Linked DNA regions of Homo sapiens. The protein of the gene in region 1 interacts with the protein of each later gene in a pairwise test. Each region holds a gene or a part of one and is shown on either strand. Other genes may lie near its edges.

What was found. Proteins that work in one complex are often made in the same cells at the same time.
Region 2: the proteins of VANGL1 (region 1) and PTPN3 interact in binary tests that used the Homo sapiens proteins (3 or more experiments, as listed by UniProt).

Annotation. Positions count from the first base shown.
Region 1 is NC_000001.11:115,679,953-115,686,970, forward strand, and holds part of VANGL1 (vang-like protein 1), read left to right. Parts: intron 1-2,411; coding exon 2,412-2,545; intron 2,546-3,991; coding exon 3,992-4,124; intron 4,125-5,340; coding exon 5,341-5,575; intron 5,576-7,018.
Region 2 is NC_000009.12:109,495,298-109,503,104, forward strand, and holds the start of PTPN3 (tyrosine-protein phosphatase non-receptor type 3), read right to left. Parts: upstream 3,011-7,807; 5' UTR 2,922-3,010; intron 2,640-2,921; exon of another isoform or gene 2,366-2,639; intron 1-2,365.

The DNA.
Region 1 (7,018 bases):
GGGTGGGAGCTGAGCTAGGCACACACCAGGGAGTGTGTGTGTGTGTGTGTGTGTGTGTGTGTGTGTGTGTATGTGAGAGAGAGAGAGAGAGAGATCAGGGAGAGGGTTGCAATGAATCTCTGGATGGGGTAGGAATAAAGAAACACTTGCCCCTCTCTGGAGAATGCCATGGACAGGGGGCAAGGACGGAGTTGGAGCCACATTGACTTGGAGATTGCCAGGTGAGACCTTCAGGGCAAGCAGACTAGACTTCTGCAGGAAGAGCTCTCGTGACACACAAACCTCCACGGAAGTCCGCCTCCTCAGGAAGGCTGCACCCTGTCCCAGGCAGCCAGAAGCTCTTCTCCGTGGTTACTCAGCCCCACGTGTTCCAGCATGAGAACATACTCACTGTCATGGGGTTCATGCTCCAGGTACCAGCTAAGGTCTATCTTCATATTCCCAGGGCTTAGCAGACACAGGCACTCAAATATGGAATGACGAGTGAACAACTGAGTAACTGAATGGTCAGAATTTTCAAAATGCAGATTTGCTGTTAGGAGTCTTAGGTTTACTTCCATTATGCAAAGTTGGTCTCACCGGATTTCCCCTGATAGTGTTCCCCAGCCTCACATGACTGTACATTATCTAGGACGATATTAAGTACCAACTGAATGCGGGCACTGTTGGGGATATAACTCAGAAAGTTTTACCATGATTCTGCTCTTAAGCAGGTTAGCTGACTGACTTCCATATTCAATTCTGTTCAAGTCTTGAAGCAGAGCTCCAAGGGGAGCCAAATGGGTGGGTAGACAGAATTTCCAGTGGATAGTTTAGGAGCTCCCTTGTCTTGGTGTGAAGTGAGGATCCCTGAGCCACCTGGAGAGTGTTGGAACACAGTGTGGTCATCCAGGAATCAAAGGGAGCCCCATCCTGGTGCTCTGGCTACTGCAAATAATCCTTGTAAGCCGATCTGCTTAGCAGAGTACTAGAAAGGAAAATCCAAAGGGCAAGATAAAAATATATCTGTGGTATTTAACATGGTGGTGGTTGGAGATGTCAGCACGTACGCTGTTACACAGAGTCCGCATGTTACCGGGAAGCCCAACTTGGAGGTTTGTAAATCATATCAGAGTTCCAGCTCTCCTGTTTATTAAATGCATACTGTTGTGCAGGTCATAGATTTTTGAGCCTCAGTTTTCTTACCTCGAATGATTGTGAGGGTTAAATGAGAATCAGGTATGTGCAAACCCTTGCTGTATCATTGCAAGGTGTTCTTCAAAGTGGCAAGTGTTCTGCACCATAGACCAAGGGCATATTCTTTTGCTGTCTATACTCATTTCCAATTATAAGTACCCTCCCACATCCTCTCTCCCACTTGTTGATGGTACCTGTTCTTTGTTCCCCTGCTGCTCTCTGAGGACCAAGCAGGGGATAGTTGGAGACCTAGAATATCGGAACATAGATAGTCACCTTCATACCCCTCTGCCAAAGGCCAGAGATAGCACTCCAAGGGGCAGGGGGACCCAGAAAGATCAAGTGGTCTCAGCGGAGGCTCTCTTTTTTTTGTTGTTTTTTTTGTTTTTTTTTTTGAGACTGAATTTCACTCTTGTTGCCCAGGCTGGAGTGCAGTGGTGCAGTCTCGGCTCACTGCAACCTCCGCCTCCTGGGTTCAAGTGATTCTCCCGTTTCAGCCTCCCGAGTAGCTGGGATTACAGGTGCATGCCACTACACCCCGGTAATTTTTGTATTTTTAGTAGAGACGGGGTTTCATCATATTGGTTAGGCTGGTCTCAAACTCCTGACCTCAGGTGATCTGCCCACCTCAGCCTCCCAAAGTGCTGGGATTACAGGCGTGAGCCACCGCGCGTGGCCAAGGCCCTCTTAAGTACGCTCTGCCCTGGATGGCTGCAGTTGTTCTGGTCTGTATAAAACCTAAGTTCCAGGATTCCTTATACCCAGGGATACCAAGGCCTAGGGGACAAAACCCTGAATGAGGACCTGAGAAACCTGAATCTATACTTTGTTCTTTCACTCATTAGCTCTGCAACCATTAGTAAGTCTCTTGCCCTTTTGGGGGCATCCTCAGTTTCTTCTTTTGTAAACCGAGGAAAAATAGAAAAAGTTCTTGTGTGCCTAAAGCTAAATGTAAGTTATGAGTTACAACTTCTTCCTCTTTCAACAAAGGGCTAGATGGGATGTGGCTAATCACAGGTCCAGGAGAGGGCACAGAAGTCACCTGGCCATGGGGCTTAGTTTCAGCTTTAAGTTCTCATCCTGGAGACCAGAAGTGTGGTGGAACCCAGTGGACTTCTGTATGAGATTATCTTTGATGTTGTGTTCCTTTACCTGACTCCAAAAGAGGATTTTTCGTTTAGGACCTGCTTCTTCAGTGAAAAAGCTTTGCATTAATTTTGTTCTTTTTTTCTCAGTATCCAGCGAGCAGCATTGGTGGTCCTAGAAAATTACTACAAAGATTTCACCATCTATAACCCAAACCTCCTAACAGCCTCCAAATTCCGAGCAGCCAAGCATATGGCCGGGCTGAAAGTCTACAATGTAGATGGTATGTGCCTTGAAAGGGTGTCCGTGGTGCTCACAGGGGCACAGTTGGGTGACTATTTAAGATTCATGGTACGTTTGGTTCGACTTCTTCTCTGGGCCTACCTTTATGGTACATTCTTGTTTCAGAACAATTTCTCTTTTTTATGTAGGCAGACACATGTTTAGAGGAATGTTGATTTACCATCTACCTGTGTTGGAAGCCTGTTCATTTTGGGATTTTATGATTGAAAACAGCAGCGGTGTGTGTTTCCTGCCTTCTGCCAGGATCATCTTATATTGGAAGCTGTTAGGAAAGGGTTGCTTTTCAAAATTGGTGCACATTACCCACAAACTCAGAAAGCTACCTAAATCATTAAGACTAGAAATCTCAGTAGTCCAGGCATCTGGTGAGATACCTGCGGGCACTTCTTACTCGTGGCTAGGAGCCGGAGTTGAGTGGGTGGCAGGAGGCTGGAGGCCAGGCTGGGTAAGTCCAAGCTATGTTTCAGGGTATCACATGGTTAAGTGCAAGAAACAGGATGCGGTGTCATTTCTTCCTGGGTATGTTGGGTGAGGGCAAGAACTTTGCAAACCCTAGGAGAGGATTATATTTTCAACAAGTCAAGTGATTTATATACAGTGTCAGTTTTTGTTGGCAATATCCTTTCAGTTATTTGTTTGTTCATTTTTTTTTGGCTATATGAGGTGTGAGCTCCCTCACGAAGCCTGAAGGATTGATAAATTTCACCTGTGATCTAAAAACTTAGGAAAGATTCCCACTAGTGAAACCAAGTCACCAGCCAAGTAGATCATCCGTAAGAAAGCCTGAAATCTGCCTATGTTTCTGAAAAGTTAAGGTGGTCAGTGGTCAGGGGACAGGACAGGACTTCTGAGTCTGTATTCATTAACGGGTCACGTTGCACACCCTCAAGCATTGGTATTTCCTAGAAAAGTTGTGGCTGCCATGACATTCTAGCATAGCTTGCTTTCCATTGTAGACTCAGTGTCTCATGTCCTTTGACTTTCTTTTTTGTCTGTCTGTCTGTCTGTCCTTGGTCTCCCCATCCCTCTCATTCTGTCTCATTGTCTTGCTGAAATTTGATGTCCCAGCCGCCCTTATGGCCAAACTGAAACTTTATGTAACAGATGGTAACATCTTCAGCACACTCTATGTGTTGTTTTTGGCCAACATTTTAATTGCCACCGTTCTTCATGCCCTTCTGAGTTCTTTTTCCATTTCCACTGACCAGATTGGGGTTTAGGGAGATTCCTCTGCTCCCTTGCTTTGGACATAGTGAATGTGGAGCCGGGGCACAGTTCACCCTCCTGGGAAGTGACCTTTAGGATTTGTGTGTGTGTGTTCCATAGGGGGTGGGTAGACAACACTGACAGATTGGGTACTAGTTTTCTGCTCTGTTTCCCACCCTCGTGGTATTAACACTATTCTTTCACTGTCCTTTCCCCAAAGGCCCCAGTAACAATGCCACTGGCCAGTCCCGGGCCATGATTGCTGCAGCTGCTCGGCGCAGGGACTCAAGCCACAACGAGTTGTATTATGAAGAGGCCGAACATGAACGGCGAGTAAAGAAGCGGAAAGCAAGGTATACTGCCCTCCTGATGCCAGTACCCTCTTACAGACTTTTAAATTTTTATTTTATTTATTTATTTATTTATTTATTTAGAGACAGAATCTCACTCTGTTGCCCAGGCTGGAGTGCAGTGGCAAGATCTTGGCTCACTGTCACCTCTGCCTCCCAGGTTCCAGTGATTCTCATGCCTCAGCCTCCCAAATAGCTGCGATCACAGGCGCCCACCACCACGCCCGGCTAATATTTGGTATTTTTAGTAGAGATGGGGTTTCGCTATGTTGGCCAGACTGGTCTCAAACTCCTGACCTCGAGTGATGTGCCTGTCTCAGCCTCCCAAAGTACTGTGATTACAGGCATGAGCCACCATGCCCGGCCTCTTGTAGACTTTCAATCTTTCCTTTCTTACCACTAGAATGAGGTTTCTGTTTAAAAACATGACCTGCTGGGACACCTTTGGAGTGCACCTTGCTCCAGTGTTTCTCAAACTGAAGCCTGTATGAATATCACTGGGAGGGCTGTTCAAATACAGGCAGCAGGTTCTGGGCCCTGCTTGCAGAGACCCTACCCAATAGGTGTGGAGTTGGGCCCAAGAAATGGCATTTCTAACAGATTCCTGCGTGATGCTGATGCTCCTGGCCCCCAGCCCATACTTGAGTGGGTCTGTTCTGCACCCCTGGACCCTTGCTGGTGTTCACCGTCAGGTCATATTCACTGAAGGGGACAGAGGTGCATTCCATCATGTGTGCTGTGCCTCTTCCTGTTTCCCAGGGGCTGCTGGTGTGGGTGGCTGGACCAGGGAGCACGCAGCTCTGCTTCTTTGTAGGGCTGCTTCTGCACCACCAGCCACCTCTCTCTGTACAGAGCCTTTTATAGCCAGTCGGAGGGGCCTCAGAACTCTTTTCATCTAACCATTGCAGAGATGAAAAAAGGACTAGTGCATTTCCCAAGCTCATTGGTGGCAGAATTCAGAACAGAGTTCATCTCCCAGTCCTGGGGCTCCTTTCCCCCAACCCCTGGGGCCCCTGTTCCACATGTTATTTTTGCTGTTGCCTTTCTTTCTCCCTTCCTCCCTCTCCACTCTCTGAGGGACAGCTAAGGATGCAAGCAGCGTGATTGGGCCTTGGGTATGTTGGCAGGTTGGGCCGCAGCAGGGTAGACAAGCGTCATTCTGTTCTCACACCCTGTGGCAGGCACCATCCTGATTACTTAGTGTTGCATCACCTTCTAGGCTGGTGGTTGCAGTGGAAGAGGCCTTCATCCACATTCAGCGTCTCCAGGCTGAGGAGCAGCAGAAAGCCCCAGGGGAGGTGATGGACCCTAGGGAGGCCGCCCAGGCCATTTTCCCCTCCATGGCCAGGGCTCTCCAGAAGTACCTGCGCATCACCCGGCAGCAGAACTACCACAGCATGGAGAGCATCCTGCAGCACCTGGCCTTCTGCATCACCAACGGCATGACCCCCAAGGTGCGCTGCTCCGGGCGGGCTCTGCCACCGTCATCCTGGCTTGTCACTGAGCTTGGCCAGTTGAATTATAGCGTGTTACTAGAAGTGATAAAATCGAAAGGCATCTCTAAAACTCAAGTAATAAGAATTAGTGATTCTCACTTATTTTATGTTATGTTAGTACAATTGTTTTTTTAAATGTGCCTTTCGAAGGCCTCTGGATTCTAACAGAGGAGAGAATTTCGCTTGGAGGACAGTATGGAATAGTGATTGGAGACAGTATGGAATAGTGATTAGGGGTGCATTGTGGACTCTGGAGCTGAACTGATTCATTCTAACCTGGCTCCTCCACCAACTAGATGCATAACCTTGGGCAGATGGCAATAGCTCTGTGCCTCAGTTTCCTAACCTGTTAATTGGTTAGGATAATACTAATAACTATCTCATTTGTATGTTTTGGGAACTGAAAGAGCAGGATACACATATAGTGCAACATATAAACAGAGGTCCTTATAAAAAACAGCTACCAAATGTTACACGTGTACCACATGCCAAGCTCATCTACTCTCTACCATGCGATTTACATGCCTTGTTGCCATATTCAATGTAATTCTTACACAACAACCCTGTCAGAGAGATATTATTATTATCCTCATTGATACAACAGCAAACAAGTGTAGAGGAACTGAAACAGTTAATTCATGTGAAGTGCTTGAAACAGTACCTGTCATATGATGAGGATGGACTAAATAGCTCTATTTATTGGTAAAAAATAGAATGGCGTGAACCCAGGAGGCAGAGCTTGCAGTGAGCCAAGATCGCACCACTGCACTCCAGCCTGGGCGACAGAGCGAGACTCCGTCCAAAAAAAAAAAAAAAAAAAATGCCATCAGGCATTTTGGGTGTTACAGAATTAGTTTTACTGAGTGGTCTTTTAGATTATGATATTTAGGACACTTTAAGAAGTGTTACAAGAAACAGCCATGTATCTAATAGAGAGTTGTGGCCAAGGAGGCAAACTAGAGTAAAGATACAGCAAATGACTTCTCTACAGAGAAGTGGGTTCAAATCCTGGCTCCACCACTTAATTGTTTTGTGACTGTGCACAAATTACTCTACCCTCTATTAGATATATGGCTGTTTCTTGTAATATCCCTAAAAGTGTGCTAAATACTGTAATCTAAAAGACCGTTTGGTAAAACTGACTCTGTAACACCCAAAATGCCTGACAAAGCCATAGCATTATTTTTACCAATAATAATAATAGCAATTTAGTCTGGCCTCTTCATATGACAGGTACTGTTTTAAGCACATCACGTGAATTAACTCTTTCAGTTCCTCTACACTTGTTTACTGTTGTATCAATGAGGATAATAATAATATCTCTCTGACAGGGTTGTTGTGTAAGAATTACATTGAATATGGCAACAAGGCATGTAAATCGCATGGTAGAGAGTAGATGAG
Region 2 (7,807 bases), on another chromosome or scaffold:
TGGAAGGTGAGCTCTCCTGGGAAAAGATGTAGGGACCACAAATTGCTGGTCTTTTCTCAACCACCACAAACCCGGAGGGTTGGGGAAAGGCAGGGTGCCATGTCTTCTCACTCCCTCCCATCCCCAAAGCTGAGCCCTTCTGGTAGGTTATGCCTGTCCTAGAAAATGTCTCTTGTGTGCCTGGACCTGTAGTTCAGAAGGTCAAAATTGGTCCCTCTTGCTCCTGGCCCCACTCTACCTTTGCCAGCTCAGTTTCCTTATCTGCAAGGTGGGGAATGGGGTGGGGTTTGGCAGCAACAAACCCCACTGTGTGTGAAACCTTCCAGTTCACAGCCAACAAAGCGTTGCTCTCAATTCTCTGAAGCCAATTACCACCTCGGAACCCCAGCTTTTTCCAGGGATAAGATTTGTCTCTGACCTTGCCTCCCTAACCAGGTCTCTGAGACTTGAATGAGAATGCTTAAAACTACCAGAGTATCTTCTGTATGATAAAAGATGAATCGAGGGGTCAGAGACATGACTGATGATATGGTAAGGGATCCTGAATCTGCTTCCATGGTAACTTGGGCTTTTTCTCCTGCTCCAAGCTGTCTGAGGGCCCACCACCTGTCTGGCCTGACCAGGGCCTGCCCTTTCCTGCACGGAAGTGGATGCAGGCAACCTGGATTCTCTGGGGTGCACCCCACATCCCCACTCAGCACTACATCTGCCATACAGAAGTTCAATAAATGCCTCAGCTACTCTGAAATGCCTTCAGTAACTTGACCTTTTATATTCCCCAGCTAATGTCTAATTTGCATATATGAGTCCTTTTTAGGAGATGGCAAATCACCAGAGAAAACGCAGGATCAATACAGAGTATTAGGCACGTTCTATTCTACTCTAATTCTCTGCAAATTGGTATTCCATTAACTGCATGTGGGATTTATGGGAGCTCGCTATAAACTAGAATATTTAACTAGAATGGCCTACTCTGTCAGATAATAGCTTACTGTTGTTAATTTTCAACTAGTCAATCTCAGAAAAGTTTCCAACTTCCAATATACTTCACATCTTGATTTAATCATCCGGAAAGTCATCCATATCAAAGCCTCCATACAACAAAGGGACAGGCAGCTTGATGCAGAAGAAAAAGACCTGCCCTTGGAACCAGGAGACTTGGGTTACACCCCAGCTCTACCACATACTGTGTAATTGGCTGCTCAGAGCCTCCATGTCCTCATCTGTAAAATGGGAGTGACACCAGTCTCACAAGGGAGTTGTAAAGATTAAATAAGACGATACAGGTGAATGTACTCTGTAAGTTCTATAAGGCTATGCAAAGGTTAGTTATTACAAAAGCACAAGATGAAATTCTCAAACAACTCGGGCTAATGACAGAAAGCAAGAATTAAATTGGTGGTTCTAAAGGGGTGCTGGGGTGGCATTTTGCTCCCTAGGGGACATCTGACAATACTGGAGGCATTTTTGATTGGAACAACTGGGGAACAGGAATTGCTACTGGAATCTACAGACCAGGGATGCTTCTAAACCCTACAATGCCCAGGACACAAAGAATTATCAAACCCTAAATGTCAATAGTGCAAGGCTGAGAAACCCTGATCTAAATAATCGCTTAAAGTTGGATTTGGGAGCTTTTTAAAACAGAAATCTTCCTAAGCAGGCTTTACTTTCTCCCATCATCTGCTTAAACATTTGCAAGATGGATCATCTTGCAAAACAGCTCTTTTGTAAGTGAAGCCAACTGCCAACTTCTGGAGTTTCTGAATGTATAAAACTGCTTTTAAAGGAGATGCTCTCTGATTACAATTCGGCTAAATTGTTTTTCCGAAGGCCTTGACTTCGGCAGAAGTTCTCCTGGGCACAGAGACAGGGTCTGTCACTCCACCACTAGGCCCTGAAGATGGTTTCCTAATTCTAATTTCCTCCTGAAATGAGAGCCACGAGGGTCTCTAAACGAATTAAATTCACATCACGCCAACTGCTTGCTAGCTTTGTGCCGGGCACGGTGCCAAACACCTCCACATAATTTATCCCACTTAATCCACTCAACAACCCAGCGAGGTGGGCATTATTACCAGCTGATTGCAAGGGAGGAAACTGAGGACCAGAGAGGTTAAACAACTTGCCAAGGTCACCAGCTGGCCAAGGGGGAGCCCAACTTGAACGGAGGTCTCCAGTTTCCAAGTCACAAGCTCTTTCCACCAGCTTGGAAAACCCAGGTGTCAAGTTGTCTCAACTTCCCATGAATTTTTAAGGCAACCGCAACTTCTCAGTAAGTTTAGGTAGCTGAAAATGGGAATTTCGGGGGGGCTGGGCACTCTCACATACACTCCCCCATCTGCAGCTGTCTCACCGCAGGTACCTGATAAATCATTCCATATCGTCCGCGGAACGGGGAGGATTTATTGGCTCTGGAGTTTCGTGCCAGGCCCAGGAAATGCCATCTTTGAAAGCCGAGAGGCGGATTCGCCCTGGGAGCCGAGCGCTGGCAGCCGCTCTCGGCTAGCTCCCCGCGGGCTGTGTGCCCCCTCGGAGCCCCGAGCCGGGGTCGCGGCGGCACGGGGTCCTCCGGAGGTGCCGGACGCACGGGCTCCGCGGGTTGCGCCCGCCCCTGCCCGGCTGGAGCGCACGCCCACGCTCCGGCGCCGCGTCCCGGCCGCCAGCCCGCCCCGGCCGAGCCCCACCCGGCGCCCCGCCCGCGCCCTCCCGCCCCGGCCCCGCCAGGTGAGCGCAGCGGGGCGCCCCCTCCCCGCCCCGACGTGGTGCGGGGATCCCGGTGCAGCCGCACCCGCCAGCCCGCCCGCGCGTCCGCCGCGCGCCCCAGGGACGGGTGGGGGCGGGGTGGCGCCGAGCGCGACCCCGGCCCCCGGCAGCCCCGCACCCTGCCCCCGGCCCGCTGGGGTCGCACGGGCCCGTACCTGCAGCATCCGGGGGCGCGGAGCGCCCAGGTAGGTCGCGCGTGCGGGCGGCGCGGAAGCTCGCTCGCGGCGCGACCTGGCCGCCGTCTGAGCATGCCCAGTGCCGCCCGCGGGCGGTTCCCGCCGGCCGGGCTGGCCGCGACGGGCCCGCGCGCCGGGCGGGGGGCGGGCGTCCGGGCTGGCCTGCGGTGTTCTCCCGCCCCCGCCCCGGGCTGGCGCGCCCCGACGCATCTCCTAGGGGCACCGGGGCTCTCCGCCGAGCTCCGGGCAGGTCCTGAGTTCCCTCGCGCATGCATGCAGCCATTCGTTCCACAGCCATGACTGGGCACCTACTGTGTGCCAGGCCCTCAGTGATTTCATGCCTAGGGAAGGCAAGAAGTCGGCGCCCAAAGAAACTTTGAAATGAGGAGTCTTGCACGACGGGTGCGCGGTTGAGCTGAGGTCCCGCTGACTTCCAGTCCAGTGCTCGTCCCTTGGCACTAGTAAGCTTCCCTGGTTAAACCTCCCCAAGGCTCGTGGGACCCCTACCTGATCTGTGCTCCTGCTTCCCACCTCCGTCTCATCTCACACCTGCCTTCCTGCGGATCCTAGAGCGCCTTTCTGTCCATCAAACACTCGAACTTCACTAACCTCAGGACATTGGCGCCCGCCTTTCCCTCTGTGGGACGTTCTTGCCCAGCTTTTCACGTGGCCGGCGCCTTCTCATTGTACATAGGTCCCCTCCTCAGAGAGGCCTTTCCTGACCACCTTCCTCGATTAGCCCTCTGCTCCTGACCACTCCGTGTACTCTGTTTTCTTCATAGCATTTAACAGTGATTTATCCATTTTCAGCAAATATTTATTGAGCACCTATTCTGGTTTTTCTCGCGTGGGGAACAAATAGACAAAAATTCTGTCCCCCAGTGGAGTTTGGGGAAAGAGGGACAGGTAACAGATAAACAGCAAATTAGCAAACTATGCATTATATTAGAAAGTGATAAGTTCTAAGAGGAAAAAGAGCAGGGTCAGGAGATTTGGGGCTGGAGGTAAGCAGTGAATTTTCAGTGAAGCGGTCGGATAGGGCCCTTGAGCTGATGGACGGTCTGATTGGGTGACACTGAGAAGGTGATAGTGGTATTTCAGCCACGCAGATAAGCAGGGAAGAGCATTCCTGGCCGAGGGAACAGCCAGTGCCAAGACCCAAAAGAGCGCCGGACCGCTTAGGGAACGGCAAGGAGGCAGAGGAGCAGATGAGGTTGGTCACTTTGGCTTTTCCTCCGATTTGTTTAATTCTCATGTTGTATTTCCCTCCTAAATGTCAGCTTTGGGGCTGTAGCTCTGCTTGTCTTTACTGCAGTGACCCCCCTGCAACACTGTCTGGCACACACTAGGCGCTCAAACATTATTTGTTGAATATGTGAACGAAGGGATGCAGAGATGGTTGGAACCCTCCAGTCGGGCCTGGGTGCCAGGTCCTGGGGGCAGTCGTTCCAGGGATAGACTGAGGCCTCGGCAGCCCCTGGAACCTCATTTCGGTCCTTGTCCCGGAGTCGCACGTCCCGGGATAGCGCCGCTGCAGCGGGTGCCGCCCGTGCATCGCGTCGGGGGGATTTCCGACGGAGCCCGGAGTCCAGGGGCAGGACCGCCCGCGCCCCGCCCGGCCCGGCCCGGCCTCGAGTCGCCAGCAAAACCTGGAGCCGCGGCGCCCGCTCAGCACCACTCGGACGGGCGGGGAGCGCACTGGGCATGCTCGGAGCCGGGCGGGGCCGGAGCCCCCGGAAGGAGGAGCCCCCTGGAGGGGCAGGCGACGCCCCCCGCAGAGCTCCACCCAGCGCCCCCGGGCTCAGCAGGAGGCATTCTCTGTCCTTTCCCCACTGCCTTATCCTCTCTGTGCTTCAACCATTGTGAATACCTACGCTTCGATCTGGGCACCCGAGTGGAAGTTGAGTGAAATAAGGAACGTGAACGTGTTTAGACCACCTTAAAGATCCATTTCTTGAGTGCCTACCAAAATCAGCCGTCATCCTCATGCCAGTTTGCCAACTGCTGAGATGAGGAAACCGAGGTCAACGGAGGATGTGTGAATTTTCGAAGTTGTCTTAATCTGCTGACCCCTAGACTGAAATTACCTTTTCTTTTCCCACAGCTAACAGCTGTTAGCTTAAACGATGCCCTCAACTTTGAGCTAGGAACATGCTTACACCTAAAGGAAAGACCTAAATATTTTAAAAATCATGCGTTTTAAATCACCATAACAGAAGCAGGAACAAAATGAAAGAATACTCCCCAAATTGGAAACAAACTAAGTACTCAATAACAGAGGGATGATTAATTAGGTTATGGTATATTAGTTGAAATAATAACTATCTTACACTAAGTTAAAAAGACCATGTTGCAACAGGGAAAACACGGTACAATGTTAAATGAAAAAAAAAAAAACCGCAGAAAACAGGTCGGGTGAGGTGGCTCATGCCTGTAATCCCAGCACTTTGGGAGATCCAGGTGAGAAGGTAGCTTAAGCCCAAGAGTTCAGGACCAGCCTGGGCAACATAGCAAGACCCCATCTTTACAAAAAAAAACTTATCCAGGTGTGGTGGCATGCACCTGTGGCCTCAGCTACATGGGAGGCTGAGGTGGGAGGATCTCTTGAGCCAGGAAGGTCAAGGCTGCAGTGAGTTGTGATGGCACCATTTGTACTTCAGCCTGTATGACAGAGCGAGATTCTGTCTCAAATAAAAAAAAAAAAAAAAGCTAAAAACACAAATAGATTGTATAAACATGGTGTTGACACATTCACCAAGACTGGAAGGAAATATGGGAAAATTAACTAGTCATTTTTTTGGAGTAGTAAGTTTGGGTGTTTTTTAAAAGTTTATTAATGTCACAATGACATGTTTGCAATAATAAGCATTTAAAAGATCAAATTAAAAATTCTTGTTTTGTGTATATCCAGTTACAGTAACTGCTATTATCAAGCTCAAGTACGATGAATATTTTATATATATTCTCTCTTTAATCCTTACCATCACTCTACAGAGTGGGTGTTTTAGCTCAGTTTTACAGAAGAGAAAACAATCTAGGGGCTGTTCACAGCTGTTAAGGGGGTGAGGATTTGAACACAAGTCAATCTGATCTCAAAGTCAGGGTGTTAGGTTTTAGGACACACTGCCTCTCTGTGTAGTAGATTACCATGTATTGATGATAAGAGAAGCTATATGTCATCTAATTTTGTAGGGTTTTTTGCCTTATTTTCTCTACCCTTTGATGTGTTTGTAGGCTACAGATTACCTTTAAATGTTCTAGTCTCCTGTTACTGTTTTATTCTTGGGGCCAAAATGTTAAAGTCTATCCTTTTAAGCTGTTGCATCTGGAGTGACATAAGGTTATTATTACCAATGACAGTTGATCTTATATCATAAGCTCCCAAACCTTACGTAAATGGGGCTTTTGAATGGGCACATAATCTTCTTAGGCTATTGTTGAACTCAGCCAAGTGTAGAGCAAATTAAAGCCCAATTGGGAATAGAGCTGTACTCAGTCCCAGATCGACTGGTCCAGAGAGGACCCACATAGATTATCGTCTCTGGGCATTCACTTTGGAGGCAGGATCACAACATGATGGAACCACCTGGTCCATGGACTCCTCAGGGACTTTTCTGTGATGAAATGACAGAGAGCTGATAGTCCTGATGATGTTTGCTGAGAGAAAGCCAGGACCGTAAGAGCAGCCCTCCTCCTGCGAAGCTCAAAAATATAGTCACCTCTCTCTCTTAGTGCCAGTAGACTGTACCTGGCTGAAAGATCCAGAAACCGTGAAAAACAATAACAACAAAGAAAACAAAAGAGCATCATTTTATTGGAGAGTAAGATACGCTACAAACTGAATATACATCACAGGTAATGGACCAGATTCGTAAAAGAGGAACAAGAGATGAACATCTAAACATAGTTATTAGCAGCATTCCCAGAAGCTGCCATTGGGGCAGAAAATCAGGTGCCAGGCACTGTATGCAGGCAATTGGTTAAGGGAATTTATAGGAAGAGTTTCCTGGAAGAATCACTGAGGATTGTCATTCGCATCAAGACTTGGGAAGTCTGCCCTACTTGTACTGCTCCAGTGATTTACAAAGCAGTGCTCTGAGCTGAGATGCTAATGCTCATCAATTATTTGTGCTGTTAATGCAAGCTTATGAAGAGCCCGAGAATCCATAAATACATGGGCAAGTGGTGCTGTTAGAATGACATGAAAAGAATATGATGTAAAATACACATGGTATGGTATGTGGGAATTCAGTAGGTTGAACTATAAATTGCCAGGCAGGGTGCAGTGGCTCCCACCTGTAATCCCTGCACTGTGCGAGGCTGAGGTGGGAGGATTGCTTGAGGACAGGAGTTTGAGACCAGTCTGGGCAATGTAGTGAGACCCTGTCTCTACAAATAAGAAAAAAATTAGCTGGATGTGGTGGCACCCATGTGTGGTCCCAGCTACTTGGGAGACTGAGGTGGGAGGATCACTTGAGTCAGGGCGGTTGAGGCTGCAGTGAGTCCTAGTTGTGCCACTGCACTCCAACCTGGACAACAGCAAGACTCTGTCTCAAATAAATAAATATGAAATTGCCATTTTATGGGTCAAAATGGTTGAACATCGGTAACTTCCTGTATTTCAATTTAATGCATACACATAGAACAAAAACTAGAAAAACTGCACCAAAATATTATTGGTGGTGTGTCTGACTATTGCATTTATGTGCAGAGAGGCAGGCTACAGAAGTTATCTTTTACAAATTAGGAGAATTTCAAGTCTTTGGGTGTCTATTTTTTGTATGTCTTTATAGTTCTCTAAATCTTATGTATGTTTCTTTCATAATCTGGAAAAATGAAACAAATTCAAAAGTTGGCAAGCTAAA